Regions from separate parts of the Homo sapiens genome. Here region 2 is linked to region 1. The links come from fine-mapping of genetic effects on gene expression. A gene starts in region 1. The other region holds a variant in brackets. All regions are shown on one strand. Distances are between the middles of the regions. Region 1 holds the start of RAB37 (RAB37, member RAS oncogene family). Region 2 overlaps NHERF1 (NHERF family PDZ scaffold protein 1).

What was found. PIP is the estimated chance that this variant, and not a neighbour inherited with it, causes the effect. A credible set is the group of variants that fine-mapping cannot tell apart.
Region 2: its variant is the best candidate, but not a certain one, in a credible set for the expression of RAB37 in whole blood (TOPMed, PIP 0.57).

Annotation. Positions count from the first base shown.
Region 1 is chr17:74,736,121-74,739,014 of GRCh38, forward strand. It overlaps RAB37 (RAB37, member RAS oncogene family), which reads left to right and starts at 1,136. Exons shown (of 9, transcript NM_001006638.3): 1 at 1,136-1,245. The coding sequence starts at 1,153. LOC124904057 (a long non-coding RNA gene) reads right to left here and starts at 1,219. Exons shown (of 3, transcript XR_007065905.1): 1 at 1,138-1,219. RefSeq lists enhancers at 322-381, 768-1,491, 1,762-1,851, 2,216-2,894 and silencers at 622-791, 842-891, 1,092-1,291.
Region 2 is chr17:74,765,543-74,768,436 of GRCh38, forward strand. NHERF1 (NHERF family PDZ scaffold protein 1) reads left to right here. Exons shown (of 6, transcript NM_004252.5): 4 at 1,394-1,434; 5 at 2,605-2,694. Among named protein-coding and RNA genes, the nearest start is that of NAT9, 9.4 kb to the right of the region's middle. The variant A/T (reference allele first, on the strand shown) is at 1,220.

The sequences.
Region 1 (2,894 bases):
GAGTATAGCTTGAACCCGGGAAGCAAAGGTTGCAGTGAGGCGAGATCGCACCACTGCACTCCAGGCTGGGCGACAGAGTGAGACTCTGTCTGAAAAAAAAAAAAAGTGCAGGTACCCCTCTCCAGCTCTCCCCTCCCTACACATCCCTCAAACCGTCCCGCTGTAATGCACCCGCCCTGTTCCTTGGTAACTTGAAGCTGCTTATAGAATGTGGAGATGGGGGTAATTGAAAGGTCGGCCCAGGCCACAGAGCCCCTGAGCTCTGCTACCGGCAACCCCAGCTGCACTCCCCACTCTCTGTCACCAGGAGCTGCCGGGTGCCTGGGATATCCTGGCAGCTCTGCTCAAAATGATCTACGACTTCATGAATTTATTTGGCTCCTCCTCGGGGCCAGGGTGAGTGTCATGGGTTAATAAGGCCGGCCCCGCCTTCAGGAGCGGTCCACTGGGAGATGTGTGCTGCGCAGCCCTCTTGCGAAAGCTCTCCCCTGGTGGGACATTCTGGGCACAACCAACAGGCCGGGGGAAATGAGAGGTGATCCATACTAAAGGGTCAAAGTCCCCGCACCAGGCAGAGGCCCCAAAACACCGCAGCGTACATGTGCTGCAAGGCGAGTACGGGTTGGTAAACAAAACTATATTCAGATGAGCTCGGGCCGGGTGACTTAACAGATGAGGAAGTGTCTCGGGGCCATCGGCGGAGGCGCAGCCCAGGGGTCCCCAGCTCCCCGCCTCGCCACCTGGGGACAGCCCACGGCCCGGGGCTCGGGCGCCGCCTGCTGTCGCGGTGCGCAGCGACTACGGGAACTCTTCCGCAGCAGACGGGGTCCCCGCGGCCCGCTCCCCCAGGGGCAAGCAAGCGACCACAGGGGACCGGTCCCGGGGCTGGATGTGGCTCATGTCCGAAGCGCACGGAGCCGAGCCGGTGTTGCTCAGGGAGGCTGCCCGCCCCTTCACGCAGACCCTGCGGCTCTGCGTGCCCTCAGGGAACAGCAAGGTCCGAGCCGGTGTCGTCGAGGGGGCGACGGGACGGAGGGAGGAGCCTGAGGGGTCCCGGTCGAGGGAGGGGAGGAGTGGGCGGGGCGGGGGTGGGGCCGTTCCTGCGCTCTCCTTCGCCTGCGGGCCGGCACTGCTCACCTCTCGTCCAGGGACATGACGGGCACGCCAGGCGCCGTTGCCACCCGGGATGGCGAGGCCCCCGAGCGCTCCCCGCCCTGCAGTCCGAGCTACGACCTCACGGGCAAGGTGGGTGGGCCTCTTCCGTGAGACCCCCGCCCTCCTCGGCGCTAGCCCCTTCCTGGCTGCGTCTGGGTTGGACTCAGCCCTTCCCCCAGGCAGCTGCGTCTCCCAGAGGAGGGAGGGAGAGAGGGTCAGGACACAGCCTCTGGGGCCGTCCCAAGCTCTAGGTGTCTCTGCTGGCTTGGTGGGGGCGGGTCGCGGAAGATCGCAAAAACTGAGTGATCCCCCCGCCGGCCCCAACTCAGTTCTCTTCTGCCACACTCTGGCAAATATGAGCCCCCGGGAGCCCATGCTTCTTGGTGAGGGTTAAGCGCGCAACTCTCGGGGCTCAGGCTGGGAAGGGCTGGGAGATGGGGACCGAACGGAGACTCGGAGAGGACGTCCCCTGCTGGCAGAGGAACTGGCGTTAATGCCATTTTCCGAGCTAAGCTCTTAGTTGAGATCTGACATCCAGGTTTAAGGCCTGATGTCCCCCAGCTGCTCCCCTCCCATTCCACCCGCTGGAGGCACTGCCTCCCACCTTCCTCCCTGCAGTCGGAAGCCGCTCCTCCCAGAAGGATGTTGCCAGCCGGCCTGCAGGTCACTTGGGAATTTTTCGAACCTGAGAAAGATTTCAGTGGTTGGTCTTTCGCATCCCGCACTTGAGAGAGCTCCAGGGCTGCTCTCTGGGGCTTGCTCCCTCTACAGGGGTGTCCTGTATGGAAACAGGTAGGGACAGCAGTGGACTGGTCTGTCGCCTTCCATCTGTGTCCTTGGAGTGAGCGGGTACCAGAAACTGAAAGAACTGCTGAGGGAGCCTAGAGCTTCCACTCTTCCTCTGCAGGGTTGGGGATGGAGTGAGGGCTGTCCTGGATTCCGCTGCATGGCCTTGAAGGAGACCTGCCTCTCTCTGGGCCTCGGTTTCCTCCCCGACACCAGGGCTCACCCTTGCTGGGAGCCTCAGCCTCCACCCCAGTGTTTCGGGGGAAGCCACCCTGCAAGTCATCCGCCCAGAGCCGTTGAGATAGGCGTCCTGTGTGGGCTTGTGGCAGGAAATGGGCCCCTGCACCCTCGGAGAGGAGGAGCTGCTGTTGGCCAGGCCCCAGGCTGAGGGGGACTGCCTGACCTTGTTGCCCTGCAAACCAGCTGGGTTGTTTGCCTAGGAGGTGGCCAGGCTAGGCAGCTGTTTGTGTTTGGTGGAATCACCGAGCTGGGTGGGTAGCTGGCATCGTTTGCTCAAGGCAGCTGTGATCTGTAAAGTACACAAAGACTGGCCCTCCCTCCCTCCTTCCTGCTCCAGGGCTGGGACCCAGGAGCCAGGGAGGAGTGCAGGCTCCAGAAAGCTCCTATCCCCCACCCCTTCATCTGTTCCCTGGCCAAGCGGCATTGGCCGGAGAGTTGGTCCCCAGCCTCCCCGGGCCTGCCCCAGGGGAGTGAGTCCAGGACCCTCTGAGAAAGCCTGGCAGGAGCTCCTTGGACCAGACTAGGGGTGATGTGGCCCACAGGCAGACAGTTCCCACCCTGGGCCACTCTTCCCTGGGTCTTAGGTGATTCACCACGATGATGGGCCCTAGCCATTAACAGACTCTAGAAATACCTCAAAGACATTATCCCTCCTCCTTCTACCCACTATGGAAACCATGCCACAGAAAGGTTAAGGAATCTTCCTAAAGTCA
Region 2 (2,894 bases), 29 kb after region 1:
CCACCGCGCCTGGCCTTTTTTTTTTTTTTTCCGGACACAGTCTCTGTCACCCAGGCTAGAGTGCAATGGCACAATCTTGGCTCACTGCAACCTCCACCTCCTGGGTTCAAGCAATTCTCCTGCCTCAGCCTCCTGAGTAGCTGGGATTACAGGCGCCTGCCACCATGCCCGGCTAATTTTTGTATTTTTAGTAGGGATAGGGTTTCGCCATGTTGGCCAGGCTGGTCTTGAACTCCTGACCTCAGGTGATCCGCCTGCCACAGTCTCCCAAAGTGCTGGGGTCCCAGTCATGAGCCACCGAGCCCAGACTATTTTCTCTTTCAGTTGAGGCAGGTACTAACTATAGTCTGGGGTGTGGTTCCAATTTTGGTGTCATCATCATCACCTGGGAAGCGTTTGGAAAATGTTGATTCTTAGGCCTGCCCACTAAACCAGAATCTGTGCTGCCAAGGTCCAGGAATCTGTACTTTAACAAGCTTCCCACGTAGGAGTTCCCAGGTAGGAATTCCCAGGTAGGAATTAGGCAGCCATCCTCGAATTTCATCCCCATCTGAGACAATACATTTTTTAAACACCTTGTGACCCATCAGTGCCTCATAAGATCAATTTAGTAGATAGAGACCAGCAGGTTTTTTGGTTTGTTTTTTTTGTTTTGTTTTGTTTTGTTTTGTTTTGCCAGAGTCTTGCTGTGTTGCCCAGGCTGGAGTGTAGTGGCGTGATCTCGGCTCACTGCAACCTCCACCTTCTGGGTTCAAACAATTTTCCCACCTCAGCCTCCCAAGTAGCTAGGATTACAGGCGTGTGCCACCATGCCCAGCTAATTTTCTTTTTGTCTTTTTTAGTAGAGACGGGGTTTCACCATGTTGGCCAGGCTGGTCTCAAACTCCTAACCTCAAGTGATCCAGGTGCCTCGGCCTCCCAAAGTGCTGGGATTACTGGTGTGAGCCACTATGCCTGGCCCAGACATTTTTTTGTTTTTTTTAATGAAATGAAATTAAAAATATCAAAGAACACTGTAGTAAGGGTGTTGCTTTGTGAAACTTTTATCACACAAAATCTTTGTGTGTGCTGAGTCATCAAAATGGCAAACGTAGGCCAGACATTTGCTCACACCTGTAATCCCAACACTTTGGGAGGCCAAGGTGGAAGGATTGCTTGGGGCTAGGAGTTTGAGACCATCCTGCATGACATGGCAAGGCCCCATCTCTATAAAAAAAAA[A/T]TTTTTTTTAAATAAATAAGGCAAATGTATTCATGGTGGGTGGTAGTCAAAAAAGTTTGAGATGTTGACCCAGGGAACAAGATCTAATAATCTGCCCAAACCCAACTCCTACCTCCTCTCCACGCTCTATTCCATCCCCGTTCTGGACTCACCTCTGCTCTGTCCTTTGCCTAGGTCCCCTGCCTGTGCCCTTCACCAATGGGGAGATACAGAAGGTAAGGGCGGGTCCCCTGTCTCTTTGGATTTCAATCCTTGGGGTGCATGAGACAGATCAGAAGGTGCTGTGGTTGGTAGGATAGCCATCTGACTAAGGCCAAAACCCCAGGGTCCCCAGTTCCAGCTCCTTCTTCAGCTCCAAGCTATAGAACTGCCAGAACCCTCTTGGCCTCTGCCTGGGGCCAAAGCTGTCAGGAGGGAGCGGGCTGGCTGGGCCCCTCTGCAGCCCGCCATCCTGGGTGACAAGCCCCCGCCTCCAACTCCCCACCATACAGAAGGGGCCATTCTTCCCCCCAAGAACAGAGCTTCAGTGTCTGGCCACGGGCAGCCGGGCCCCTGCTACTTCTAGTCTGGGTTGGAAGAACAAAGCCCCTCCTCCCCCCTTCCCTGGGCAGAAGGGAAAGGGGGTGAGGCCCGGGGAAGAGATGGTGGGGCTGGGCGCCAGCTGAAGCCATGGAGGAACCCAGGAAGGGGCTGGGTGCCAAGCTGACGCCCCAGCCAAAGCCTTCGCTCTGGGACAGGCCGACTCAGTCAGGCCACAGAGCAGGAACTCTGCAGGGTCTGCTTAAAGGTTCCCCTTCCCTAGGAGCTCCTGCCAGGGTACTTGGCAAGGGGGAGGGCCCTTGGACCCAGCCCTCAACCTTCTTTCACCTCATCTTTGGATCTAGAACTTTCCATCCACCTTCTTCTTTCAAGGCCCTCCTTTGCTGCTTCAGGGTTAGGGTTTCAGGATTCCTGGGGTCAAATCCTGGCAAACAGTCAGGTGGACCACATGAGATTCAGGGAGCACCACATGGGCTCCCCATGCCCCCATGTGTCCCCACATTCCAAGAAGCCCCTCCCTGGTCACTGGCCCAAAAGGCAAGCCAGTACCTAAAAGCCACATTGGAGTGGCCCAGGGAGAGGGAGCGGTTCAGCTAATCCCATGATGGTCTGTTCCCATCCCATCCCTCCAGCCTGAGCAGTAGAACCAGCCTGCCCTCTGATCCCCAAAGGAATGTAAAAAGGAGCCCCAGCAGGCTCAGGAGGTGGGAACCAGGGGTGGGTGGCCAGGGCATCAGTGCTACCTCTTCTCAGTCTGAGGCCCCTACTTCCCCAGGAGCTCCCTCCCTCCTCAGGACCCCCTCACCCCATCCTCTGACAACCCACAACCCTCTCCTCTCTGCCAGGAGAACAGTCGTGAAGCCCTGGCAGAGGCAGCCTTGGAGAGCCCCAGGCCAGCCCTGGTGAGATCCGCCTCCAGTGACACCAGCGAGGAGGTAGGCCAGCCATGCGGGGGGTGGCAACTGGGTTACAGGAAGCCGATTCCCAGGCCCCACTTGTTCCTGGCACACCAGCCTGCCTTTGAGGTCACATGCTGAGCCGCATTCTGTTCTTGTGACCTGGCTTCCCTGGGCACGGCCCCAACGGAGCCACCTCACCAAGGCTGAGGACCAGGGAGCCTAATGAGGGACTGACT